Linked DNA regions of Homo sapiens: region 2 is linked to region 1. Evidence: fine-mapped expression QTL. A gene starts in region 1. The other region holds a variant in brackets. All regions are shown on one strand. Distances are from middle to middle.

The links. PIP is the estimated chance that this variant, and not a neighbour inherited with it, causes the effect.
Region 2: its variant is fine-mapped to the expression of ILKAP in whole blood (INTERVAL, PIP 0.98).

Annotation. Positions count from the first base shown.
Region 1 is chr2:238,195,337-238,211,122 of GRCh38, reverse strand. ILKAP (ILK associated serine/threonine phosphatase) reads left to right here and starts at 7,428. Exons shown (of 12, transcript NM_030768.3): 1 at 7,428-7,624. The coding sequence starts at 7,570. RefSeq lists enhancers at 6,547-7,419, 8,382-8,441 and silencers at 7,232-7,801, 7,922-8,011.
Region 2 is chr2:238,152,758-238,165,828 of GRCh38, reverse strand. It overlaps ERFE (erythroferrone), which reads right to left and starts at 6,859. Exons shown (of 8, transcript NM_001291832.2): 1 at 6,624-6,859; 2 at 4,113-4,235; 3 at 2,991-3,093; 4 at 1,830-2,092; 5 at 1,646-1,754; 6 at 1,469-1,559; 7 at 145-223. The coding sequence starts at 6,821. KLHL30 (kelch like family member 30) reads right to left here. Exons shown (of 8, transcript NM_198582.4): 8 at 12,882-13,071. RefSeq lists enhancers at 2,171-2,671, 12,048-12,547 and a silencer at 6,812-6,881. The variant G/A (reference allele first, on the strand shown) is at 5,265.

The sequences.
Region 1 (15,786 bases):
CTGGTGCTGACAGCAGAGGACTGAAGGTACCCAGGATTCTTTGCCCCCATGTCTAGTGAGTCCACAGAACCCAGAGGGTAATTGGGACTGTATCTGGTAAGATTATTTCCTTTCTTTTGGATACTGGGGCTAGCCTATTGGTATTAACTGACTATCAAGGCCCGTTAGAACGTTCATCCATTTCTGTGTTGGTATGAAGGGCATACAAGAAACCCCATATAAAACACCGCCTCTATACTGCTCATTTCAGGGAGTCATCCTCACTCACTCTATTTTGGTCATTCCTCACTGTCCCACTCCCTTATTAGGAAGGGATATTCTACACAAACAGGGGGAATCATTCATTTATCGGCCCTACACCAAAGACACCCTTATTTATTATTATGTCAAGAACAGAAGCCCTCCTCAGACACTCCACATCAAACAGACTTAAATCTCAAATTTCTCAGCCATGTAAACCCCATCATATGGAACGCTGACTTCCCCATAATAGCTACCCACCATTCTCCAACCCAAATTTCATTGAAGAATCCTAAGCACTATATAGTGTTTCCAACATTGTCCCCTCAACCCTGATGGATTGCAGGGACTCAAGCCCATCATATCCTGATTTTGGGTGCCAGTATTTTAATCCCCACCCATTCTCCCCACAATACTCCTATTCTTCCAGTTAAAAAACCAGACAGCTCCTATAGACTGGTCCAGGATTTGTGACAAATCAACTCCGCTATTATTCCTGTTTGTCCCGTTGTCCCAAACCCCTACACCCTCCTATCACGAATTCCTCCCAACACTAGCCACTCCTCTGTATTAGACCTCAAAGATGCCTTTCTTACTATCCCTGTACATCCCTTCTCTCAAAACCTTTTTGCTTTCACTTGGGCTGATCCTGACACAGGCTACTCCCAACAACTCGCCTGGACTGTCCTCCCCCAGGGGTTTAGGGACAGCCCTCACTATTTCGGTCAGGCACTTCAATTAGACCTCTCCCAACTACCTCTACAACCCAGCATTTTGCTTCAATATGTGGATTTACTCTTTTGCACCCCCTCCCTAGAATACTGTATTCAACACATCACCAAGCTTTTACATTTTTTGGCTGAATGTGGGTACTGGGTATCCAAAAGAAAAGTTCAAAAATTTCATACCCAGGACTTATCATAACTCCAAATTCTGTCAGCACGAAAGCAAGGTGTTCAACAAATCCCATTTCCTAAAACAAAAAGGGACTTACTTTCCTTCTTCGGATTAGTGGGATATTTCCAAATATGGATAGCAAATTTTGCCATTGTTGCTATATCCCTTTATGAACACACAAAAGAAAATCTTGACCAACTCCTCACTCCCACCCCAGATCTTTATCATGCTTTCTCTCACCTAAAACGTGTGTTATTACAGGCCCCCACTTTAGGCCTTCCAAACCCCCTAAGACCTTTTAATCTGTATTTACACAGTTCTCATAATCAGGCCCTTGGTCTATTAGCCCAACTCATGGCAAACTCCCTCCAACCAGTGGTATATTTTCAAAACAACTAGACCCCATTTATAAAACCTGGCCCCCTTGCTTAAACATTTTGGTCACAACAGCAGCAATAATTATTCCTGAGGCACAAAATCTCATGTTTTATGAACCTCTTCAGGTATTTTCTTCTCACAGTCTACAAGATATGCTCAGCCACAAGGTGCTCACCTCCAGCTCATCCTCTCGCAGGCAAGCCCTACTTTCAACTCTCCTTCAACCCTCTATATCTCTTCATAGATGCTCCCTGACTAACCCCGCCACTCTTTACCTTCAACACCAATTTTAGACCCCGACCAACACTCATGCTCTGATCTAACTGGAAGTTCTCTATGTATCACCGCCTTACTTGCACTCACATAAAAGGAGACCCAGATTGGTTTATAGATGGGAGCACATCAAAACACTCTCCCCTCTAAGCAGGATATGCCATCATTGAAAGGATATCATGATGATACCCACTCTCTCCCACCTAGAAAGCCATAGAGGCTGCCCCCTTGCCTTTGGGCACATCCTCCCAACAAGCAGAATTAGTTGCCCTAATAAGAGCACTAACTCTAGCAGAAAACACACAAGTGAATATATACACTGATTCTAAATATGCCTGTAACGTTATCCATTCCAATGCCCAAATTTTGAGTGAGCAGGGCTATCTCATAGCTAAGGGAACCCCTATCATTAATGGAAAACTCATCCATCATCTATTAAAGGCAGCTATACTTCCAGAAAAGGTTGTGGTTATCCATTGCAAAGGACATCAATCAGACAAAAGCCACATTCCTTTAGGGAACCATGAGGCTGACTATTGGGCCAAACACGCCTCAGCCAACGACCCAATTCCCCAATACTTATTTCCCCTCACACAACATATGCCCTCCTTTTATCCAGAACACCAAACACAACAACCAATCACAGTAGGGGCAGACAATTTAAACCCCCATACTGGTTCATACAAAACAAATTAGTCCTACTTGACCCTGAAAAAACAATTTCTTCTATGGGACATTCACAACCTCTTCCACACTAGCCATTCCCCTCTACAGCATTTCTTAAGTTCCCATATATACATAACCCCAGACATAAAGGAACAGTTAAAAGCCATTTCCCATCAATGCTCTGTTTGCAAAAAAGCTTCACCCCACTTCAACACTAGACCCTCTTCTTTTCTAACCCATCAATCCAAGGGACACCTTCCAGAACAGGACTGGCAAATTGGTTTTACCCACATGCCCCCAGTAAAAAGGGTTTGATTTCTTTTAGTTCTGGTTGATACCTTTTTGGTACGGGTCGAGGCCTTTCCCACAACCAACAAACGAGCTCCTACTCTCCAAATTAATAACAGAAATCATCCCCAGGTTCGGGGTGCCTCTTTCTTTTCAATCTGATAATGGCCCTGAATTCATTTCTCAAATTATTCAAACACTTGCACAAGCCCTACAAATCACCTGGAAGTTGCACCTCCCCTCTCGACCTCAATCTTCAGGAAAGGTTGAAGAAATGAATGGCATTCTACAAAAACACCCTCACCAGGTACTCACACCAAACACATAAAGACTGGGTTACACTTTTGCCTTTAGCCCTTCTAAAAATTCGGGTGCTCCAATGTAAACTTCTAACGCTCAGCACCTTTGAACTCATGTATGGGAGACCATTTGCCCCTCTGCTCCACCTCAGGGTCAAGCCCCACCTCCACCAATCCCTCTCATTTCCCCTCTTGTACATACCATCTGCCATTTCATTTAGGAATATGCTGACAAATACCTGCCACAACCCATCACCGACTCCTTTAATCCCTCCCTACAGCCAGGAGACTGGGTTCTGGTAAAATACCCCAGTCCTACCCTCAATTCCTGCTTCACACCTAAGTGGAAGGGACCTTACCAGATCATCCTTACCACACCCACAGCACCGAAACTCCAGGGACTCCCCAGCTGGTTTCATTGTACTTCTCTCAAGAAAACAGACTTCCCTTCACCACATACCCAAACAACCAAGTCTGAAACCCCTTCGGCCTTCTCTCGTGTCTCCCAGGACCCACTTCTCTTCGCCTCACCCAAATCCCTGAGGAAAAGGAGGAGAAATCCACATAAGCCGCTTATGTCTCTTTCTCTCCCAAACTTTCATCACTTCCTAACTAACCTTGTTACAGACCTTCAGTGGTGCCCTTAGGAAGCTCCCATTATACATCCTGATCAGCTCGTTACTGCTCTATGGGACCTATGGCTTCAAGGAACTTTCCAGGACTTTACTCCTACCCAAATAACTTTTTTCGCTTTTTGCTTGTTTCTTTCAATATAAATTCCCTAATCACATCAACCTCATCAATACAACCACTCCTCACTGCTCTCAAACTAGAACGCTCTATAAACCTTACACAATCTCTCTTGCGGCAAGCTAACTCTTCCTTTGCTCTGGAATGCTGGGTGTGTTTATCGCTGTCTTCCTTAGCTTACACAGCCCTTCCTACATTCCTTCATGACCTTTTAACAGGAAACACAACCCTAATTTATAAACTCCAAAAAGGAGCTTCCTTTTTTGAAAGAGCTGACACTCTAGTCGGTGATTATCCCACTTCCAGGGCCGATCAGGCCAACAAATTATTTCAAACCTAGGATAACTCCCTACAGCGCCTTAAGCCCCACGGCCCTCCCATTGAAGGGCCCATAACTAAACACACTCCTCCTCTTATAATGAGCCTCACTTTGCTTTTCAGCCTCGGAGGGAAATTTCCCTGTAGGGTCCTTAACATCTAACCTATGCAACCACACTATCATTGTTAAACACCCCTCTGACCATCAAACTAACCAGGCTAACTACCAAGTATCACCTGAAGCGAACGGAGCATTTCTGCAGCTGGCTCGTTTGACAGCCTTTCCCTCAGCCAATGCCTCCAGCCTAACCTGTGCTGCTCCTAGTGCCCACAATTTTCCTTGGCTCAATATCAATAGTGCAGCATCCGACCGCATTAAATCTGTAAAAAATAACTCTTCCTATACCTCTAGTATAGTAGGTGTCTCCCAGGCCTCCTCCTTGTCCACCTGGAGTAATGAACCACAGGAAAGAACAAACACCTCATCTTTAATTCACTTATTTTCTGTCCATATCTCTGCTTGTATTTACAATAAAGGCTTGTTCTTTTTGTGTGGTCTCAACACATATTTCTTTGTCTCCCCATCAACCAGACCAGAACCTGTACCCTAGTTTATCTTTCTCCCTCCATTGGACTAGTTCCTCCTAATCAATCTTTACCCGTTCCATCCATCCAATATGTTAGGAAGAGGAGAGCCATCCACGTCATTCCTTTAATGGCTGCCTTAGGTATAACCTCCGGGCTTGGGTTGGGAGCAGGCTGATTCGCCACCTGCTTAACATACTTGAAATCTCTTTCAACAGAACTGCAGAGTTCATTAGAGCATATGGCCCAAAGCCTTATAAGAGTCCAAGGCCAACTAGACTCCTTGGCTGGAGTAGACTCCTTGGCTGGAGTAGTCCTCCAAAATAGACAGGAATTAGATGTTATAACAACTGAAAGAGGGGACCTCTGCCTCTCATTCGGTAAAAAATGTTGCTTCTATCTCAATCAGTTGGGCCTAGTAAGAGACGCTGCTAAAAAACTTAAAGAAAGGGCTAAAAAGCTAAGAGAATAACAAGACAACCAAATAAATTACTGGTTTAAAAACAAAGTCCTAATATGGGTCATCCCATTCCTGGGCTCTCTCCTAAAAATATGCCTAGGAATAATGTTCTTACCCTGCTTAATTAACCTTTTTCTAAGTTTTTTTTATTTTTTTGAGACGGAGTCTTGCTCAGTCGCCCAGGCTGGAGTGCAGTGGCGAGATCTCGGCTCACTGCAAGCTCCGCCTCCTGGGTTCACACCATTCTCCTGCCTCAGCCTCCCAAGTAGCTGGGACTACAGGCACCCGCCACCATGCCTGGCTATTTTTTTTTTTTTTTTGTATTTTTAGTAGAGACGGGGTTTCACCATGTTAGCCAGGATGGTCTCGATCTCCTGACCTCGTGACCCACCCGCCTTGGCCTCCCAAAGTGCTGGGATTACACGCGTGAGCCACCGCGCCTGGCCACCTTTTTCAAAGATTTTTAACCAGCAGGATCATGGCCATCTCACAGACAATTACCCAAAAACATCTACAGACAGCGTTACTCCTACAATCAATCTGAAACCAAAGAACTCTCTGCTCACTCCCCCAGCAGGAAGTAGCCAGAAAAAATGCGCTGCCCCTTGTCCTTTTCATAACTATAGAGACTGGATTGATAGAGCAGGAGCATTGCCATCTTGGACAAACACCACCTTTCTAAGTTCCCCTTGATTAAAAAACCACCTAAATCCTACCCCAAAACATCAGCCTAACGGCTAATGTCAGCATAACCAGAAATATTCCAACCCTAAGATAAACCTCTCTTCAACCAGAAACATGCTAACCCTGAAATAACCTCTCCTCCAATAGCCTCCCCTCCGACCAGAGACATTCCAACCCTGCAATAAACGTTCCCCCACTTCCAAAACCCTTAAATATCCTTAGTCTGTAAGAGAGAATGCTTAGTCTGTAAGAGAGAGCGCTCCTGATCGAAATTGGCCAGAATCCCCTCTCAGGTTTATTCTCTGAAATAAACCTTTTAATGTTGAGCCGCTTTTTGTATTTATTTCCTCTTTCTTTAACGGTTACAAGCATTGTTACTTGAGTGTTTCTGCTGTAATGGAGGAGGCAGCATGAATATCTCAAACGGTTGCTAGTGAGAAGCCACGCAGATGAGAGGCATGAAGCCTTGTTGGGCTCCCTCCATGTCCTACAGCCAGAGAGCGTCAGAAATACATCTGCCCCAGAATGAACTGGGCTGAAAACTCTTTGCATGGAGGGAGACCACATAACCTGGGGAACTTGGGTAAACGATGTTGGAACGGAGGTGTAAGATTTGGGTTTGTGTTAGTTGATTTGGGGAAACATTTATGGAAACGGGCCTTTGCTCCGGATTGGATGTCAGGAAGAGGAGGATTCCATGATTGGATATCTTGATGAAGCTTATCTAGACGGCAGGAGGACGAGACAAAGGCTAAACATGTAATGGTAAAGAAGCAGCAATCACTCTTATTGGCCAAGACGAGGGGAATGTGGTCACTTTTGTGGCTTGGACAGTGTTCCTGTTTTGTCTGTGTTCACACTTGATTACACAGTGGTCTGTTTTTTTCTCTTGATCTGTATCACGGCCTGATGTTGGTGTTTTATGAAATTGTTCACATTCAAAGAGAACACCCAGGCCTAGCTGTTTGTGCCAGACCAACCCCAAGTCCTGGCTGCAGAACCAGGCCAGCTCCCCGATGTCAGTGGCCGCCTTTCTCTTTACAGGCATGGAGGGGGACACCATTAAGGAGGAGCCCCTCTTCTCCGCTCCCCACAGACACCAGTGGGTGCAGACAAGTCAGGGAATGCCTCCTTTCCCTCCGGCATCTTTTGAGGTTTCCGTCCTGACGCCCAGGGCCGCTCCATCCAAGCCTCGGTTTCTCAGTCTCTAAAACAGGCCAGAAACCAGGCACGCCGTGGTGAAAGGACGAGCCGAAGAGATGGCAAGAGCTCCAGAAAGCCTTCCCAGGCATCAGGGGCTGCCCTTGAGCTCAGACGTTTCTCTCTGGACAGGGCTTCTTGGACAGGAACTCAACGAAACTTGACAGAAATCGGACACCCCCAGCCAAGGAAAAGCAGGAGGGGCCCGGGGTTCGCCAAGGCGGGAAACACCGCGGGGCCCAGACGGCGCCGTCCGCCCGGCTCGCAGTCGGGGCGCGGGAGGGGCCCACGCGCATGCGCACCGCCCCGCCCCCAGCCGCCCCGCCCAGCCCGCGCGCAGCCCTCTGGGGCGGCCGGGCCACGCCGCGCGCCGATTGGTGGCGTCCGGGACTCTCCCTGCAGGTGACTGACGGCGCCGGCCGCCCCTGCCCGTCGCCCGCCCGCTGCTGCCGCCCGCCCGGGGTGTGGAGCCCGGCCGCTGCTCGCGGGCTGAGTGTCTGTCGCTGCTGCCGCCTCCACCCAGCCTCCGCCATGGACCTCTTCGGGGACCTGCCGGAGCCCGAGCGCTCGCCGCGCCCGGCTGCCGGTAAGCGGCGTTGCCGCCGGGCCGGCCAGGGAAGGGAGAGCAGGCGGGATGGGGGCGGCCTGAGGCCCGGGGCGGCTGAGGCGGCGCCCGCGCTGGGAGGCGGCGGGCGGCGCGGGCTGCACGGGGCCTGCTCCTGCCTGGCCAGGCCCCGTCCGGCCCACTGGCGGCCCTGTCGGAGGCCCGGTCGCTCGCGGAGCTCGGAGAGGCCGCTCCGCCATTTTCGCTACGCAGGAAGGAAAGGGCCGAGCCGTCGTGGCCACGGCCCCTCTGCGTGGCGGTGAAAGGCGCCGGCGCGACCGCGTGGGCCGACCCGAGGGACCGGCTCTGAACGCCCGGCGGCACCGCGGGCCCCCGCGCCCCGATTCCACCCGCGGCCTGGGCTGCCTTGCGCGTCGCCCGCCCGCGGCTTCCGGGCCGCACTTCACCCGCGGGCTGTGGAACGGCCGCGTTCCGGGCCGGTGCAAGTTCAGGGGCTTGGCGTTTTTATTTGCACTGGAGATTGAATTAATCACCATCTTAATCCTTCGTGTTTTTGAAGCCTGGAAGACAGGATGCCTCCTCTGTCATCCTGTGATTTTGTGATAATTAACAGTAGTTTTTTTTTTTTTTTTCTGGTCCACGGGAAGTTCCCCCTCTCCTTGAAGTTAAGGGGTCCGCTCATCTCCTAAGCGCTGGCCCCTGCCAGTGGGAGTCCCTGTGGGCTGTGGTTTGAGCTCAGCATCCTAGCAGCTTGAAACAGGGCCTGTGTTAATCCCTGCGTCCTGTGGGTTACAGTCTCCGGGTTTCATCTGTCAAAACGCGTGAATATTTCATATGCAAGACTTCCAGCTTGATGTTGTAGTTTAGGGCCTTATTACAAAATTTAACTTGGGGGCAGAAAACCTGGAAAACTTAAGACGTTCAGATTTCCAGGCCCACCTCAGCCCCAGTAAATCCGAATCCCTGAGAGTGGGGTTTCCGAATCTGTTACTAAATCCCCAGGCCAACCCAGCGGGGGCTGGAGACCAGTGGTTTGGGAGCTGCTGTTGTAGGGTAGACGGAGGTGAGTAAGGCCCAGCCTTCGCTTTCTAAGAGCTGCTTTCTGAAGGGTACTAATTACGGTAATTAAAACTGGCAAAAGTTAATGACTGTGGGAAATGCTGAGGACTCTTGAGGAGGGATTGTCGGGCACCGAGAGACTGGGGAAGGAGGCAGTGTTTGAATTGAGCTTCCAAGGATGTTCAGGCTTGTGATTTGCAGTAATTCTGGGCGAGAAAACATTTTATTTTATTTTACTTTTTGAGACGGAGTCTCACTCTTGTCGCCCAGGCTGGAGTGCAATGGTGAGATCTGAGCTCACTGCAACCTCCGGGTTCAAACAATTCTCCTGCCTAGGCCTCCCTACTAGCTGAGATTACAGGCGCCGACCACCACACCCGGCTAATTTTTATATTTTTAGTAGAGACGGGGTTTCACCATGTTGGGTAGGGTGGTCTTGAACTCCTGACCTCAGGTGATCCGCCCGCCTCGGCCTCCCAAATTGCTGGGATTACAGGTGTGAGCCACCGTGCCCTGCCCCCACTGACCGTTCTGATGGTACAGAGCATCTCAGTAACTGGTCCTGGAGTCTTTGAACTTGACTCAGCCATTCATTTTCAAAATAACCACGGTTTTAGCTGTGGGTAAAAATTGGATTTGTGTAGCAGTCTTTTTTCTCTTGTCAATGGAGTATAATTTCTATCTGAATATATTTGGGACAGCATTTGGATTCACCAGTGTGCGTGTAAACCTATGAGTCTTAAAATCTCCATTGCTTTTTACCTGCAATTAATTAGGTTCTGCTCAGGAGCAGGCTCCCTTGACTGACAAAAAACCTGGCAACTCAGAATCTCATAGGTTGGCACCTTAGCAGCCTTTTGCCAGATACAGTGGGAAAGGTACATCCTGTTGCCGTTTTTTCCAAACTCAGTTTCCAACCTTGACTGAGCTGAAAGGGTGGCAGAGGGGGTGCATGGTGTTTAAACTGCTGACCACCCTGAGATTGGATTGGTCAGCTGCTCCCCATCTGCCAGGAGGGCACTGACATTGTCAACAGGTCCTGCTTGGCTGAGTGTATTTTTAAAAATAGCTTTAAAACGAAGAAGATCTCAGAATTTGTAGATGATTGGAAGCTGAGAGGGATAAGTACTAAAATGAGTGACAATTGGGATCCATAGTTATCATTGCAGGCTGTTAGCTACAACCAACAAGATGAGATTTGACAGGTTAAAATCGTTTGTACAAGAACAGAATCTGGTTTCACATACTTGTGAAAATACTGTGATTTAAAAAAAAAAAACATACTTTGAATAAATCATATTGATTGCTAAAGTGAATGGAATAATGAGTCTAAACTGTGCATCATGACCCTCACACATGATATGTGGGTACCACAAATCTCTAATGCAGTGAACAATAAAAGACCTCGTTATTTTCCCAGAGCGCAAGAAAAGTTGTTCAGAAAGTGTAACCAGACTACTTGGTTTAGAATCCAGCTCTTCGCTTACTAACTGTGCCTTCTGTGGCTATTCCTACATGTGTAAAAAGGGGTGACACTTGCCACTGTTACTGTACAAATTAGTACAGTATGTATGGTGCTGCACATAGTGTGGGGTAGAATGTATAGTGTTTTATAGATGTTAGCCAGGGTTATTATTTTTGAGACAGCCTCATTGTGTCGCCCAGGCTGGAGTGCAGTGACATAAACACAGCTCACTGCAGTCTCGACCTCCGTGGGCACAGGTGATTCTTCCACCTCAGCCTCCTTGGTAGCTGGGACTACAGGTGCGCACCACCACAGCCAGCTAATTTTTGTATGTTTTGTAGAGACAAGGCTTTGCCATGTTGCCCAGGCTGCTCTCGAACTCCTGGGGCTCAAGTGTTCTGCCCACCTTGGCCCTCCCAGAGTGCTGGGATTACAGTGGTAAGCCACTGTGCCTGGCTGAGCCATTAACAGTTGTTTAAAAGTGGAAAAACGCAGTCTTAAATGAATTATGGGAAAGCACTGAGTGTCCAAAGGGAGAATACTACACTGCTTATATCACATCAAATGTATTAATATTTTGTTTAGATCTTTTTATTTTTGTTTTAAACGTTGCATCTAATGTTCCCACCCCTAAACCTCTTAAATGTTTATAATCTAGAAAAATACATAGAATGCACTAAATATTTCAGGTATTTTGCTAAATTAGTAGTTTTCATCCAAGCCCTTAAAAGTTTTAATTGCTGAATGAATCAAGTTTTTTAAAGGAGAGATGTATATATTTTACCTAAAAAAAAGTGTTTGTTCATATCAGGCAGAAATGGAACTTTCCTATGTCATACCCATAAAAGTGCCGACCTGATGTCTTTAAGATTGGCAGCTTATATTGACAATCCATGTATGTCAGTTGAAGGTGTCATGGTTTAAAATTGCTTCGCCAGTAACTTGATTTCACTTTTATAGGGTGGTTCTTTTACTTATTTGGTTGCTACACTAGTACTTTAAAAATTGATGGTCAGTTGTTGAGGAGGAAATAAAATATTTGATGGCCACACCATCTTAAAAATACTTTAAAAAAATTGGAGGCTGGGCTCGATGGCGCATACTTGTAATCCCAGCGCTTTGGGGGAACAAGGCAGGAGGATGGCTTGAGGCCAGGAATTTGAGAAGAGCCTGGCACAACTTCGTGAGACCCCTGTCTCTACGATTAAAAAAAAAAAAGAAGAATATTTGAACATAAAGGTTAAGGTATTAGAGGAAAACAGATTGTAAAACTACAGGGTTGAACAAGAAAAAAGTCATAAAAAAGTGAATTTGACTATGTAAAAATTTAAAATTTCTGCAGGACAAATGATACTATAAAGGCAAAAGACAAACCGAGAAAATAATTGCAATATACATTACTAAGGGTATAAGAAAGGCTCACAGAATTGATGGGAAAAAATAAAACCCACTAGAAAAATGGTCAAAGGATGTATCCTCCCAGTTCAGAGGTAAGGAATACAAATGGCCCATCAACAGAAAGTTGCTGAGGAACTATTTACCTTTTCACCCATCAGATTAGCAACAGTTGGTAACATTGGTGAATGTGTAGCGAAGTAGACTTTCTCATAAAGTGTTTTGGGAGTGAAAATTACAACTTTTTGGGGAACAGATTTTGGCTTCTATCAGATTTAAACTAATATCCTTTGACGAGCAGTCTAGCAGATTAAGCAGGAATACATGTATCAGATTGTTGATTGTGGCGTCACTTATCATATGAAGAACTGGGAAAAGCTTGAACCCATCAGTAAGGATCTGGTCGAATGAGTGGAGATGCTTCCCATGTGTGGCTGTTGGAGAGGATGAATTAGACTTGGGTGTGTTGGCCTGGAGCATGCCTTGATGGGTTATGTGAACACTATATGTGGAGTATTGTGTAGAGTATGACTCTGTCTTCTACAAATTAAAATGCATGAGTCCATGTGCATGAGCATTAAGGAAAGTGGAAAGGATACACTAAACTCATACTGTGGTTGGGGGGTGTGGCGGAACCTGTCCCCCCTTTTTTCTGATAATACCTCTGTGGTGTTTGGAAAACACCTGGATTTATTTTATAGTTGAAAAAATTGAGGTATAAAAAACAATTTAGCCAAAATATTTTAACATCCTTTTTTAACTTTATTGGATACAGCAACCTTTAACCTGAATATGATCAACCCAAGGGTATTTTTCTCAGCATAGTATATAACTTCCAGTAGACTTAGCTCCAGAATGTAGATAACTGAGGAAAAAAAAAAGTTCTAGATGAGATTAACTATGATTAATGGACATTTTTAGTCTTGTATTCTTATTAGGGTTCTAATATTTTTAAGATTAGGGGAGGGGCCTCTTCCAGATTTTTAGGTCAGGGTCACACTTTGTCCAATGATTGCAGCCCCCAATGCTTTGAATTTCAGTTTATTCAAAATAGAATGTAAGGGCCTGGAGCAGTGGGTCACATCTGTAATCCCAGCACTTTGGGATGCTGAGGCAGGAAGATTGCTTGAGTACAGTAGTTCGTGACCAACCTGGGCAACATAGTGAGACCCCGTCTCTACAAAAAGTTAAAAAATTAGCTGGGCATGGTGGTGTATGCCTGTAGTTTCAGCTACTCGGGAATCTGACGAGGGAGGATTGCTTGAGCCCAGAAGGTTGGGGCTGCAGTGAGCTGTGATCACACCACTGCACTCCAACCTGGCTCACAGAGCGAGACTCTTGTCTCAATTTAAAAAAAAAAAAATCTAAGGTTTTGACTAATCAGTAGTTTCCTTATGTATCTATGACCTATAGATTTTTTTTTAAAGAATCCACATACAGACTTCTAAGTTAGATTCTTTTGATGATGCAAAAATTATTTCCAGAGATTTTATAAAATCTCAGGATTATCATCATAGGATTGTTGTAAGGGTAAAATGAGTTGATGTTTATGAAGTTTCTGGAAGGGTGCCCATGTATGGAGGCAGCATAGTACCTCACTAAAAGCACGGACTGCATGGCTTTGAATCCCCACTCCACTCCTTACTGGCTCTGTGATCTTGAACAGGTAATTGACCTCAGTGCCTCAGTTTTTTCATCGGTAAATAATAATAGTACCTATCTCATAAGAATTAAATGAGAAGATGTGTGGAGCTCTTAGAATAGTGCCTGACAGGCAGGCAGTATTATCATTTTTAGAAGCCATTCCCAGTTGTGGCCAGCAAAATGTAGGATGGTCTCATTGTGTTTAATTGAAATACCTCTCATAGTATTCCAGAGTGAGAAAGAAGGTGATAGGCAGTTCTCTGGGGATGGGGCTCAGTTTGGGGCACCATCTGACTGAATTGTAGCCAGAGGAGAGGCGGCCAGGCTAGTATTAATACTAAGCTGTAAGTTGCATTGTGAGGAATGCTTACAAGAACTGAAAATATATTTATTACCTGGGTAAAAGAAGACTTCCTCCCTTGTACAGTGGCAGTGGAAAGACCTGATTTAGATGGGCAAGTTAATTCAAAAGTTAAAATATGACCTGGTACAAGCGGAAGGGTTGTTTGCTCTTCATGTTGGGCTGTTACCTGTAAATGTCCCCTCCCTTGTCCTAAGACATCTGGCTCTGTGACACCACTGAATGCAGCGTGATTGTCTGGAACATCTCATGTGGTTTTTGAGTCTGTCCGGAGAACGGGCGTTGTGATTGTTAGACCCAATGTTTGGGCAAAAGTGACCTACTTCGGGATATTAGGAATTCTTGTAAGTGGATTAATACATTGAGTAATGGTTATCCTAAATACTTTTTTTGGGTGCTGGGGACAGAGTCTGGTTTTGTCCCCCAGGCTGGAGTGCAGTGGCGCTATCTCAGCTCACCGCAACCTCCGCCTCCCAGGTTCAAGCAGTTTTCCTGCTTCAGCCTCCCAAGTAGCTGGGGCTACAGGCACCCGCCACCATGCCTAGCTAATTTTTGTATTTCTGGAGAGACAGGGTTTCACCATGTTGGTCAGGCTCATCTTGAACTGCTGACCTCAGTCCTGACCTTGACCTCCCAAAGTGCTGGGATTATAGGTGTGAGCCACCACACCTGGCCATACTAAATACTTTTTAATGGCTTTCTTCTGCTTCTTGTATACTTCTAATAGAGTCTTTATGTCACTTGTAAGAAAAGTGAAAGTATTTGCAATTCCTTAATTTGTTTAGGGTCATCCTGAAGGATTAGAATACATTTTCCCATTTGTATTAGGGATATAAAGCAAAATAGTTATTTTTTGTTAACTCAGGAATTTCTTGTGTATTTTAGGTACTTCTGACGCAAAGACCCCGGGAGAAATTTCATTCCCTTAAGTTTATAAATTTTTAATTAAAGCTTTTGTTTTTAAAAGAAGAAAGTTGATACCCAGCTCATTTCTAAATGGAGGCAAAAAGATGATAGGGATGACCCTCTTGGGGGATATAAATTTATTTGTTTAGTTGAATTGGTGTTTGGCCTGGCACAATAGCTCATACCTGTAATCCCAGCACTTTGGGAGGCTGAGGCGGGTGGACCACTTGAGGCCAGGAGTTTGAGACCAACCTGGCCAACATGGTGAAACCCCGTCTCTACTAAAAATACAAAAATTAGACCAGACATGGTGGCTCACCCCTGTAATCCCAGCGCTTTGGGAGGCTGAGGCAGGCAGAACACTTGAGGTCAGGAGTTCAAGACTAGCCTGGTCAATATGGTGAGACCATGTCTCTACTAAAAATACAAAAATTATTTGGGCATGGTGGTGTGCGCCTGTGATCTCACCTACTCAGGAGGCTGGGGCAGGAGAATAGCTTGAACCCGGGAGGTGGAGGCAGTGAGCGAAGATCACATTACTGCACTCCAGCCTGGGCAACAGAGTGAGACTCAGTCTCAAAAAAAAAAAAAAAAAAAAAAAAAGTGAATTGGTTTTTAAGTGAGTACTTTTTTTTTTTTTTTTTTTGTGACAGAGTCTCACTGTGTTGCCTAGGCTGGAGTGCAGTGGCCCAATCATGGCTCACTGAAGCCTTGGCCTCCCTGGGCTCAGGTGATCCTCCCACCTCAGCCTACTGAGTAGCTTGGACTACAGGCGCCTGCCACCACACCTGGCTAATTTTTGTATTTTTTTCATAGACATTTTTTTGCCATGTTGTCCAGGCTGGTCTCGAACTCCGGGACTCAAGCAATCCTCCCACCTCAGCCTACCGAAGTGCTGGGTTTATAGGCATGAGCCACTGCGCCTGGCGTAAATGAGCACGTTTTTATACTTGAACTCTGAGGAGCAAGAGGTGGGATAGAGCTGGTGTGTTTGGTTGGTGTGTTGAACTTTGCAGGAGGTGAACGTGTATACTTTCAACTTGGATTCTTGTGTGCCAGTTCAGATATCTAATAGCTTAAACAGAATTTCAGGAAAAAGCTGGAAAATAAGGAATGGTCGTTAAATTTTATGTGGAAAAAGATAATTGGGCATAAAACATTTAAGACATACTTTTGGAGTGTAAATCTTCACATTTTTTGTTAAAAGAGTTTCGTGACTTTCTCCTGAGGCTATCTGTCTTTGGTTACCTGAAACTCCTTTATTTTCTCCATAGCTATTTATTGAATCAGACACTGTGCTGGGGCTAGGGACACCAGGTTCCAACAGATTTTCTTCCCTTGCAGAATGTTACC
Region 2 (13,071 bases), 44 kb after region 1:
TCCTGGACCCTCTCCCAGGCCTGGAGTCTGAGGGTGCTGCACCCGACCCAGTGATCCTGAGCATCTAACAGCACCCTTCTGCACCCAGCCACCCGTGGCCATGCCCAGGCGGTGCCCCTCGATGCCCAAGCCTGCCGCACTCACCTGCAGGTACAGGACGCCATTCACAGAGATGGTGAAGAGCTCACTGCTGCTCTCCAGGCCCATGATGGCCTCCAGGGAGCTGTACCCAAAACAGAGGGAGGGTCAGCCTGCCCCATGAGACCCCACCAACTTCACCTACGACACACAATCCTGCCAGCAGCCAACACATGCCCAGCAAAGTGCCTGACCCTGGCCAGGTCTTCCAGTGGAGGTGGTGTCTGAACCGAGTCCCCAAGAGGAGGAAGGACACAGGGCCAGAGGCATGCTTGCTGTATTGGGAAAGGCAAGGCGAGGGCCCAGCAAGAGGCAGCAAAGCCCTGGCTCTGATGGGAAACAGGACACTGGCTGATGCAGCCGGAAGTGGGGATGTGGTGGCAGGTGATGCTAAGTTAGTTCAGGCCAACACACTCTGGGGGTTCAAAGGCAGACTAAGAAGTTTTGGACTTGATCCATTCATTCAAGTCTGCTCCAGCTATCCTACCCGCAGGGTATCTCCGCTGTACCTGGGCTCCCTTCTGGGTGTGGGGAGACAGGGAGCTCACAGTCACTGCACTCGTGGGCCAGATGGTGCAGGAGCAAGGGATGCGATCATGGGGAAGAAAGTTCCCGGGTGAGGAGTGGGAGGGCGACTGAGGAGGGGGCCTCCAGAAAGCTGTCTGGAGAGGCCTCTTGAAGTAACACTGGTGCTTCGAGCCCCAAGATGAAAGTCCCTGAGGTGGGAAGGAGTTGGGAGGCTAGGAGGAGCCCGGCCTCCTAGGACCTGGGGAGGAGGTGAAGGTCTGGGCAGGGAGTGGCCTGGAAAGGTTTTTTTTTGTTGTTGTTGTTTGTTTTTTTGAGACGGAGTCTCGCTCTGTTGCCCAGGCTGGAGTGCAGTGGCGCTATCTCTGCTCACTGCAAGCTCCGCCTCCCGGGTTCACGCCATTCTCCTGCCTCAGCCTCCCAAGTAGCTGGGATTACAGGCACCCACCACGCCCGGGTAATTTTTTGTATTTTTAGTAGAGACGGGGTTTCACCATGTTAGCCAGGATGGTCTCGATCTCCTGACCTCGTGATCCGCCCGCCTCGGCCTCCCAAAGTGCTGCGATTACAGGCGTGAGCCACCGCGCCCAGCTGGAAAGGTCATTTTTAACAGCTCCCAGTTGCTGTGAAGGGAAGGCCTGATAGGGGCAGAAGTAGACCGGGAGACCTGGAAGAAGGTGTGGGGTCACCTAGGCCACGGTGGGGTGTGAACGGGCGGAAGCCCCGTCCAGTGCCTGTTTAACCACCTCCAGCTTGTGGAGGCCGAGCGAATGCGGGTGTGGGGTCCGGGCCGGGGTACACTCACGCGTTGCGCTGGCACCGGGACTGGATGCAGATGAGCAGGCGCAGGTGGTCCCGGGGGCGCGGCGGCCCCCTCCTCGGCGGCTCCCCGAGCGCTGCGGGGGAGGGTGGGACGTGGTCAAGCGGGCGGGCGGCGGGGTGGGCGACAGAGCGGGCGATCCTCCCACGCCCCGGGCCTCACCCACGTGCAGCGTGGCGGCGAGAGCGTAGAAGCCAGCCACGGGCGCCCTGTACTGGCCGCTGGTCAAGTTCAGGCCCGGGCCGCGGCGGAAGGCACCCTCGGCGTCGGGCTGCGAGGGGCACGGATGGTCACCCCGGCTCCCGCCCGGCCGGACTCACCCGCCCTCCCGCGCGCCGGCACTCACCAGGTAGTAGACGCCAAGCTCGTGCAGCGCGCGCCGCTCCACCAACGCGTCCCGGCGCAGGCGGCAGAGGAAAGCGGCCTCCACGCGCGGCGCCCGCGGCCCCGGGGCCAGGGGCGCGGCCAGCAGTGCCAGCACGTCCCCCACCACGTCGTCGTCGTCCTCCCCGGCGGTGGCCGAGACCGGGGCGAGGCTCGCAGCGACCGGCCCGGCGGGGCCACACGTACAGGGTTCGGGCTCCGCGCGCTCCCGCTGCCGCACCGCACCTGGCACAGAGCGAGCGGTGGCCGCGCGCCAGGGACCCCTCACCCGCCCGCCGCGTGGGTCCAGCCCTGAACGACAGGTGCTAGCGAGACCAGGGGCCTGCCGGGCGCAGGGGTGGGGCGAGGGCGACGTCCCCTCGGCCTGAAGGGCCTCGGAGTCTTTGCGTCCTGACCCTGCAGCGGCTCCCGTTTCCCTCAAGATTTGGGAAGCTCGGGCAGAAGTGCCCCAGCGCCCTTGGCCTCCAGCCTCACCTCTACCCCACCCACATTTTCCAAAGACGCTGGGGGTAAAATAAGCGATTGCAGCTTTACTGGAAGTACAAGGAGGTTCTTCAGCGCAGAAGGTGCTATATTTAAACGAACAGGACATTGAACTAAAAGGAAAAAACGGCTCAATTCTAATGACTAATGTGAGCCGCCGCTCTGCAGGAGGCCTCAGTGTGGACTCCGCGGCTCCACTCAGCCCTGCCTCCTCCAGGGCAGGCTGCCCCAGCCCTGGCCAGTGGTGACTGTGGGTGCCAGGCTGAGCTCCACCTGGTGCTGCCCCATACACTAGCCTCTGCCTTTCGCTGGGCTCTCCTGACTTCCAGGCAGGGCATAGGCGCTGGTCCCTGAGCACCCGCCATACTGAGTGGCCAGGTCCACCTTCCTCTGTGAAGCCTTCTCCTGGCCATGGTTCCCAACCCCCAGCCATCCCCAGCCCTGACCCTTGGCAGACATGGGCCAAGATGGGGCAGAGACTGGACCTGGCCAGCTCTACTGTCCTTGAGTCCAGCCCAGAGCAGGTGCCTCCTTGGGTGCCCGCCGAAGTGTTGAGGTTGGCCCTGTCAGCTCCTCGGGACACCCTCCCAGGCCCTGCTCACAGCGGGGTGTGTGTGTCCCAGCCGGTGCACACCCCTACCTTTCAGCAGCAGCTGGAACTCCTTCAGCAGCGCCTCGGGTGGGATGATGGGGCCTGGGGGGCCCTGGGGACCGGGAGGCCCAGGGGGCCCTGGCAAGCCGAACTGAAAGGGAACCTTGGCAGTGAGGACATGTGAGGAGCAGGCTGGGAGCCACAGCATCCCCTGTGCAAGCTCTTGCCACTAAGAGGCAGGCAACAGAGCTCCCCAGTGGGCTCCAACCTCCAGCCAAGGATCTACCTCAGTGAAAGCTTCTCCTGGAGTGAGTACAAGGACTGTGCTGGAGGTGGGGGCCCTCGGGGCGGGGCTTTGGCAGGGAAGGACTCTGCTCTGAGTGGGGAGGCAGAGGGCTGAAGCCCGCTCCTGCGGCCAGGCCTCGTGGAGGGAAGAAGACTCTAGGCTGCTTTTGGGGACTTGCATCTCAGGGTCTGCACTGGGCCCGAGTCCACCATCAGCAGGTCCCCACTAGGCTGGGTTGGGACCCGAACCAGAAGCCAGTGAGCCCCCTGTGGGGAGAAGCTTAGGGCAGGGCCAGGAGGCTGGGCAGAGGTAGAAGGCCAGGCCACGAGGACAGCGCGGCCTGTGCACCTGCCTCATGCACTCCGAGCTGGCCTTCCATCGTGTGTTCAGATCCCAGGCAGGTGATACTGGCCCCCAGGGGACAGAGAAGCCCACACCCCGTATTTTCCATTTTGGGGGCTCCAAGCAGGAGGCAGCACCAGGACCAAGCACCAAGTTTCTGCCCAGGCCAAGACCTAAGGCTGAGTGAGGGTGAGAGGGACCCTGTGCCCCTAGTCCCTGGGAGCCAGGCACTCCTGCAGGCCCCTCCAGTGTGGACAAGGTTCTCACCACAGCCTGGGCTAGCCCAGCCTCCCTGGCCTGGATGCAGAGGGAGGAGAAAAGAGGGAGAGCCTGGCATTTTAGGGGTGTGGGGAAATGGTTGGGACCAGGCCCCTAACTCGGGGCTCCCCCTGGGGCTGCCTGGGTTCTCTCTGTTCTCTGTCCCCAGGCCGAGGCGTGAGGGGTGTGCTATTGGAAATGTTCAGGATGTAGGAGTGGGAGTGGATGAGGAGCGAGGAGGCGGAACCCCCCACGGCCTGGCACTGACGGGATGCCGGCCTCACCTTCAGCTTCTTGGCCTTGCCCCTGCTCCTCTTCTTGCCATTGACACCCTTGTCACTCTGCCTGACGAAGAGCATCCAGGCGTCCCGGGGGTCGACGCTGTGTGCACGCTCAGCGGTGGGCTCCTGGAACACAGCCAGCCCAGCAGGGCGGTTGGCCTCACTGGGCTCCTACCAAGCAGGTGGGACACTTTGCAGGAGGTGACTGTGTGGCCTTCTGTACTCTGGGACCCTGGTCCTTGTCACCTGTGGTGCCCTCAAAGGCAGCTCCCAAAGGGGCCCCAACCCCTCACAGCTTCTCCCCCGGCCCGTGGAGGATGACTCCTAGGGAACGGGCCACACCTCGGCCTGGACTTGGCACTCATGGGAGAGGCAGACCCAAGATGCCTGGAGGGAAAATGGGGTGCAGGGCTTGGATATCGGGGTGAATCCCCGTACTGCTGGGCCTCCTTCCTCCAGAGGAGCTGCAGTGATCACACCGTCCTCCAGTCACCAGGAGGATCCGACCACTGGAGCACCCATAGGTGCTCAGGAAGAAGCAACTGTGATTATCAGGGAGCCCAACTACTAGCCAACCCTCCTCTGTCCATCCTCCCCCAGTGTCAGAAGTTCTAAGGAGGCAAATTCAGCTCTCACAGCTGCCTCGGGTTACAGTCCAGTGGGGGAGAGGACCAGGCGAGCTGTCATGACGCGAGGCCTCTGTGTGAGACTTTCATTTCCTCAGCACTTCTGAGACACTGACACATGGACAGTGATGCTTCCGGAAGTTCCCATTCCTGTCCGCGCTGCATCCTGACTGATGCTGACACTGAGCACAGTTTTGGGAGGGACCTTCCTGGGAGAGGCCTTGGGCTATCTGGGCTCCAGGCAAGGCTGCCAGCTGGGAAGGAAACCGGCCCAAGAGGGCTTAGATGAGGTCATGGGTGCTGACGCTGGGGGCTGACGGAAGGACCCTGGGATTTTAGAGCTGACTGGGCCCTTTTATCAGAGACAAAGCCGGCTGCCAAGTCACTGCCTTTGGTTCCTGGCTGATCTGGGGGGATGCAGGGCCTTCTTTTGGGAGCTGGCTGACCAATGCGCAGGCCAGGGTGTTGTGGTGGGAAGATGGGGGCTGCGGTGCCGAGGAGCCTGTGGTTGGGCGGAGAAAGGGTTCAG[G/A]GGCCCAGGGCCCTCAGCGCTGCTCAGTGCTTCCTTGTGCCTTAGAGGGTCAACTGCACCACCTGCTGGCTGATCTCCCCTCTACCCCCTCCCAGGACCCTCTTCCACTTCCTGTGTGCCCTCCGTGGAAACATGGGGCGAGGATGCCGCACACCGGCCAGGAGGGGTGTGCCCAGCTGACCCTCCCAGCTGCACCTGTGGCCTGTGGCCGGACCCTGACCCCAGTGTGGTTTGCAGGTAGAGCTGTAACAGGCAGAAGGTGGCGTCCCAGGAGACGGCCCCAGCAATGGGGGTGGGTATTGGGCAGCTGCCCTGGTTCCAGCCACAAGGGGTCTCTCAGAAACAAGCCTTGGAGCCTGGGAGGACCTCTGGTGTCACTGTGTCCCCCACAAACAGGGTCCAAGGCCAAAACTCCACCTGGAAGCCCCTGAGCCCCGTCTGCCTCCTGCTGACAGTGCCCTGACATTTGGCTGCTGTGCCCACCTGGGTGGTTTGGCCAACTGCACGGGGAGGGGGTGCCTTCAGTCCCTGGGAAGTGGCTGGGTGTGATGGGGCCGGGATAGAGAACTCTGGGGGACCCCAGGCCTGGCTGCACCCCTGTCCTCTCTAGTAGATGCGTTCCTGGCTCTCCCCTCTACTGCCCCTGAGCATCTTCAGAATAAACAGCACCGGCCGCCCACCCCGGCTTCCCTGGGGCAGCCCTGTCTCCCTGACCCAAGGCCCGGCCACACTGAGGGCTCCTCTGAAGTTCTCCCCTCCTCAGGCCTGGGCCACACCTCCCCAACCGGACCACCCTCTGCTCAGCAGTCCAGGCTCCAAAACCCTGGAGAGGAGGGGGCAGGGCAGAGCTCAAGATCACCCACTCACGGCCAAAAGCCACCTGATCACTTGACTCAAAGCCACATGTCATTCCCCACCCTGCACAGCCCCCCGACCCCAGATCCGCAGGAAAACACTTTTTGTTTTCCAGATAATTGCACCAAATAGATTGGGGGCGGTGGCAGTAATTCGCTTACACTTTTTACAAATGCGTTCTTCCCAATTTCCTCAAATCAAGTTATTTACACTTTATCTATTTCCCAACTTCCTTCTGTCCCAAAAGAAAAGGGGGGTTTCGCCGACCTAGTAGAACCTTGCTTTAAGTCAAACTACCCCAAAGCCAAAGTCAAGGCTGCCCCGCCGGGCTGAGGGCGGCGTCTACACGGCCCTGAGTCTCTGCGGAGCCCCGGAGCCCCGGTGCCAGGCGATGCAGCAGCCCTCGGGGGTGAGGGCGGGCTCGGCCTCCACGTCCGCCTCCCGCCGCCCCGAGCCGGGGCGTGCGGGCGCGGGCTGGGTCTGGAGCGGGCCCGGGCGTCTTACCGGCGGACGAGCGGCCGGCCCCGCGCGGCTCTCCCCGGGGCCCCGGGGCAGCTCGTTCCCGGGCGGCGGCTCCCTGCGGGCGCGGCTCCTCGAGGGCGCCCCAGGCTCCGGGGACCCCAGGCCCGCGGCGGCGGCGGCCAGCAGGCCCGCGTAGACGAGCAGCAGGCGGGCTCCGGCGGGGCGGCGGGCCGGGGCCATGCGGGCGGCGGTTCCCTCGCGGCTCCGAGCGCGGCGTCTCGGACGCCCCGGGCTCCTCGCCTTATAACGCGCTTGAATCCCCCGCCTCGCCCGAGACCGCGCGCCCGCCCGCGCCCCCTCCCGGCTCCCGTGCGCGCTGCATGGGGATGGGGGGAGTGTCCGGGCGGGGGAGGGGGAGTGGGGGAGGGGGCACGGGGAGCGGGGCAGGGCAGGGAGAGCGAGGGGTGTTCCCCTGCTGGGCGCGTCCCCCCTGCAACTCCTGGTTCTGGGATCCCTCCTTCGCGCTGTCCAGCGCTTCTGCTTCCTGGGGAGCGAGGCGCCCCTTCTCCCAGCCCTGGACCCTCGGCCCTCGCGACCCCATTTTCTTTGCGGGGAGCCAGGCGCTGCCTCCTCCCAGACGGCTCGAGGCATCCTTTCTCCCCGCTCTGTCCCCCACGTCCTCTGCAGGGACCCCCGAGGTACCCCCTCCCCATTCTCCTGGCTGCGCCCCGCAAGGCCCAGGCCTCTATGACACAGGTGGAGCAAATCTGAGCCGGGAGACCCTCAGGGCCCCTTCTCAGCGCCCCTTTCCCAGGCGGGAACTCCCCTTTCCAGGCCGCCCTCCGTCCATGGCTGGCGTGCTCTGAGCGCAGGGATTCACTGTTCTTCCCCACCTGTCGCACCTGCCGGGACCCAGAAGACGCAGGGAGCCAAGAAACAACTCAGGACAGCCGCCCTGCCCTGGTGGGGCTGAGCGGGGCCTGGGCTGGGAGAACTGACCCCTATCGTGCCCTAGCGGGGGTGTGGGGGCAGACCAGACCGGAAGCCAGGCTGCCCACCGCCCACCGGAATCAGTGCCCCCAGAGGTGGACCAGACCCTGCAGGCCTCGGAGAAGGTGGCAGAGAGGCCTCTGGGCGGCCCTACCAGGAAAGAGCCAGCCCCAGCCCCACCCTACCCCTGGCTTTGTTATATCGCATGCCCTTTTGACTATCTGCCCCACCACTGGACGCTAAGCCGAGGAGGGTCGCACACTTGGCTCGCTTGCCCCACCCCCGAGGCACCTGCCCCTGGTGGGTACACAGTGCTTTTTGTTAAAGAACGGGAGAAGGCTCCGCTGGAAAAGTACCTTACACTCACACCGAGGGCTGCTGTTCCCGGGGAACTCTTTTGAGAAGAGCCCGCTGGGGAAAGGAGGCCTTACCCTGTCCTGGTTCACAGGATGTGGCAGCAGGGACTGAAAGGGGCACCAGCAGCCGCAGGTGGTGCCCCCCAGGCTTGGGGATGGGCCAAGTTCCGTCCTCAGATGCAAGCTGGCCTTTGTCGCCTGCCTTTTCTGGCCACTCATGCGATGTTCCACCTGGCTGGCCTCATGCCTGGCAGGTGGGGAAACCAGGAAATACTTCATACTTTAGGAAAAGCATGGGATCAGAAGGTAATTATTCCCTGTGATTCCACCCCTTTTCCCATAGGATATGGGAATGGTGTAGAGTTGGGTGGGGAGGACGTTTAAAGAAAAACATACCCTGCCCAGCATGAGAATCTGCCCGGCAGGGGTAAGTCCCATGGACTTACTCTGTGAAGATGTCTTTCAATGGCAGGTGAGGACACAAGAGGGAAGTCCTGCCTTTAAAAGCCACAAATGGGCCAGACACGGTGGCTCACGCCTGTAATCCCAGCACTTTGGGAGGCCGAGGCAGGTGGATCACCTGAGGTCAGGAGTTCGAGACCAGCCTGACCAACATGGTGAAATCCCGTCTCTACTAAAACTACAAAAATTAGCCGGGTGTGGTGGCGAGCGCCTGTCATCCCAGCTACTCAGGAGGCTGAGGCAGGAGAATTGCTTGAACCTGGGAGATGCAGGTTGCAGTGAGCCGAGATCACACCACTGCACTCCAGCCTGGGTGACAGAGCGAGACTCCGTCTCAACAAAAAGCCACAAATGATTTTTTTTTTTAAAAAGACCAATACAATGAAAACATTTGAATTCCTATAAAACATGCAAGTCTTTAAGACACATTTGAGAAATATGAGAAACACTGGCTTAGGTCATATGTGCCCAGCAAGATATCTGAACTTATTTCACCTGCAAACATTCTGCAGGTTTGTCACAATTAAGGACATTTGCTCCCAAAATCACGCATATGAGGGAGATGTCTTAAGGCCCTCAGAGAGTGAAGGGTTTCTCTGGTGGGTTTTCATGTCTGGTTCTATTGGAATGTCTGTTAAGAAGCCTGATGTGTGGAACTTTGTCATGACATGTCTGAATGTGACATGCACATTCGGTGTAATGTGTTAACATTTCATTCGGTTTCACTTATTCAGAGGGACTGTATCTGTGGACCACAGGACCCTGGCGTGCCATGTTCTCCTGTACTCTGCTGGTAGAGAGGGGCTCCTGTCCCCAGGAGTTGCAGCTGTGTGAATGGCACCTTCTTGCTTCTGGAGAAGCTCATCCACACCAGCACCTCATTTGATTCCCCACCAATTAGCCCAGAGAGGTGGGCGGCTTGCCCAGGACGCAGCCCATGGGCAGAGCCGGCGTGGGGCTGCAGAGGCCCTCCTGCCCACTGGACAGGTTACATCTTCACGGCCTTATGTTTGGCTTGTTAGGGTTCCTCCTATTCTAGTTGGTGTGAAATAAGAGGTGCGTGATGAGTTGGAGCATTACTGCAGAAAACATAGCCCCATCTTTTCCCTGTGAGGAATGGGCATCCCACAGGTCTGAATTCCCTCTGGGGCCCTGGCTGCAGCTATGGCTCAAGGTGGATGCTGTTTGGCCCCACCCGAGCCCTGGGAAGGTGATGCTCAGGCTCTGCCACCGTCGGCAACACTGAGGATACGCAGGGATGAGGTGCCCTGATTTGGGGAACATTACCCTTAAGATACTAGTGTGATGTCATTCCACTTCGCAGTGGGGGGCCCCAGCTTTCAGGCCAGCATTGAGGACAGGAGCCGTTGCCATGTGAAAAAGTTATTTTCCCAAACAATGAACAATCCTCATGATGTCATGGGCCCTGCCAGAGGCCCAAATCCAATCGGTTCTGGTGCTGGGGCAGCCTCCTGTAACACTATCCTGAGAGGATGACTCCGCCTGGGTTGGGGACAGAGAGCAGAGAGGCCGGGGGTCTTCAGGTGGGGCCCCTGCATGTGTCTGCGTTCACATTTCAAAGTGGCTTTCACTCAGAGGAAGGTGGAGCTTAGCAAAGAATTGCGCAGATCAAGGAGCAGCAGAAATGGGGGCCTCCCCCTGCAGGAGCAGCCCATGGGTCAGAAGTGGGGCTGGCATCGGGGTGAGCCAGGACATCCCAGGATGGAAGAACTAAATGAATGGCCACAGAACGGGGATCACTGGAGCAGGAAGTGGCCTCCCCCATGCGCCTTCACGCCTGGCTGAAATCTAATCCTCATTCTTGGGCCCTCATGTCACGGCCCGGGCCTGGCTTCCCAGCAGCCTGATGCAGCCAAGCTGTTCCCACTCTTCTCTCTTCCTCCAGAGGAAGGACCTTTGCCGATGAAGTCATGGGAATAAAACCTCCCTCTGCCCTGAAAACAGTGGGACCGTGAAGTCAGCTTGTTGTGTGGCCTCCAGAGGCCCAGGCGGGTAGCCTTCGCTGTTTACTGGGCCTTGCAAGCCCACGACGTCATCTAATTTGCAAATCGTGTGATTATCCCCATTGCACAGATGAGGAAACTGAGGCTCAGATCTTGGGATTGGCCCAAGGTCACAGAGCCAATAAATGAAACCACATCCAGGTCTGGCCCCTACAACTTGAGGTCAGTTGCTCTGGAGAACCTACAGATTTAGTTCAGTTCAGTGAGCATTTGTGCAGTTGTGCAGTTCCCATGACGTGCCGGCACCAGGCCGAGCACTCGGAATACATTGTGGCCTCCTGCATGGGTGTGTGGGCAGTCTCGGGTCTCTCGGGAGACAATTCTTTCTCACTCCTGCCCAGAGGGTCTCTTGAGTTTTCTGCTAATTGTCTACATGTTTTTAATAGATTAATTAAAATAATCATCTTTAGCTCTCCTCTCAGTTGAATGCAATGCCATTTTGGAAAGAATCACATTCTTAAATGTGACTGTGATCAAAATCGTCTTGGCTTCTGAGGGAGTCATGATGTCTCCTGGGGTTTGTTCCAAACAGGATACTTCCCCCATGGAGATTCCTGTCCTAGTCTACCTCAGTCTCAGTGACAGCCACACACCTGGCTGCCCTGCCACGTACCTGGTGCTGCAGAGTCCGGGAGAAGCAGCCACACTTCAGACCGATCAGCTGATACCACGCCGGGCACTGGGGAGGGACGGTGAATGACACGGCCCCGGAGGTGCAGCATCTTTCCTGTGTACGTGGCTGTGCCCTCTCTCCTTAAGCCATTGGCACATTCTCCATCCATACACATGCTTTCAGCTGGATCAACTGATGGCCCAACCAACTGGAGTAGTGGCCTGTATCCTTCTGTTTTCTTGCTATAAAGGAAAATGTGAGGCTGGGTAATTTACAAAGAAAAGAGGTTTATTTGGCTCACAGTTCTGCAGGATGTACAGGAAGCATAGTGCCAGCATCTGCTTCTGGTGAGGCCTCAGGAAGCTTCCACTCACGGTGGCAGGGGAAGGGGAGCAGGTGTGTCACACAGTGAGGGAGCAAGGGAGAGCAGGGGAGGTGTCAGGCTCTTTAACGATCAGCTCTCCGTGAACGCACCAGCGTTACTGCACCATGCCATGCCTGAGGGATCCGCCCCCATGATCTAAACGCCTCCCACCAGGCCCAACTCCAACACCAGCGATCAGACTCAACAGACTCAACATGAGATTCGGAGGGGACAGATCTCCAAGCTATGTCATGGTCTATACTGACTATGGAAAACTGTCAGGTGACCAGTCCATTTAATTACAGTCACATGAGGGTGTCAATGGCCTGATCCCAGCAACCACTGTCCCTGCCTGAATAGAGAAGATGCCAGATAATAAAAGGGGCCTGTCTGTGAGGTGTTGGAAAACTCAAGTCCGGTGGAAGTGGCTGGAAGCATGCCTAGGCCCCAGCTTACTTGGGGACCCGGGGGAGCTGAGATACAGTTGGCAGTGCTGGGCCTGGCTGAGGGCCCTGTGTGCTCACTGAAGGCTGAGGGGCCTCAGTTTACCCAGCATCCTCTATGGGAAAGACAACACGCACCTACCTGGAGGACATGAGCACATGGGGCCTGGAGGTGGGTTTCGCCCGCACACCCCTGTGGGCATTTGCACATGTTCCAAGGCTACGCGCTCCCCTTTCTAGAAGCCCATATTAGCCTCAAGCCTTCTAATGAGTCCTTGCTGTCCTGGATTTTGATGATGGAAGGGGATACCTTGGCTGCCCTATGGCTGTCGCTTGGTGAGTGAGTGCATTAATGTCCCTTCGTGCAAAGCTCTCAAGTGGGTGACGTGTGCCGGACCTTCTGGCCGCCGTCCTGGTGCCCTGGCCACCTTCTCCACCTGTTCTGTGTCCCCAGGTGGCCACTACAGCCTGTCAATGGCCTCTCTTCCCTCTGGGTTCTGGTTGGGCTTGGCCTGTAGGAGGCGCTAGTGGGAGACAGGGGGCAGGCCAGAGAGAGAGGGCAGATGGACTCTGCCACCTCCTCCCAGCTGGACAACAGGGGTGGTGGCTGCGTTCCCCCGCCAAGGCCCTCTCTCAGCAGCTCCCTGGAGTCTGCGTCTGCCCTTTCCCTTCTCCCAAGACGGGGTGGGGGGGGTGGCACTCCCACTGCTGCTGTCCTGGGATGCCTCTCCAGCCACTGGGCTCCCTTCACCCTGCCCACAGCATGGGGAGAGGCCGTCGTGAAACTCTCCTTAGCCACTCACCTCAATACCCAGCAGACGCCCCTTTCCTCCTGGTGCCCTGAAGGCTGCGATGGCCCCCTGAATCAGGAGCCCAGCTGATCGGACGAGGTGCACTTTGGCACCTCAAAGCTGGGAGCCAGGCCCTGGAGAGGCCCACTCCTTCCACCCGAGGACCGCCCATATTCCCATAGGGTGTGCAAGGGTGGACAGCAGGCGTTGCTCTGGCACGCCGCCCTTTTGGCTACTTTGTGATCAAAGCCAGCCTATTTTGACATTTCATGTCTTCAGTTTTATTTTTATTTATTTTAAAATATTCTTGCAGAAATGGTTTACATGGAGGCTTTGTTTTTAAACAGCCCTTTGGCTGACCTCCTTCCATCACTGTCTAGAAAACATTTCAGATTTCCACATGGAAACAGAGCCCAGGGCCCCAGAAACCCTCACCCTTGCTTCATC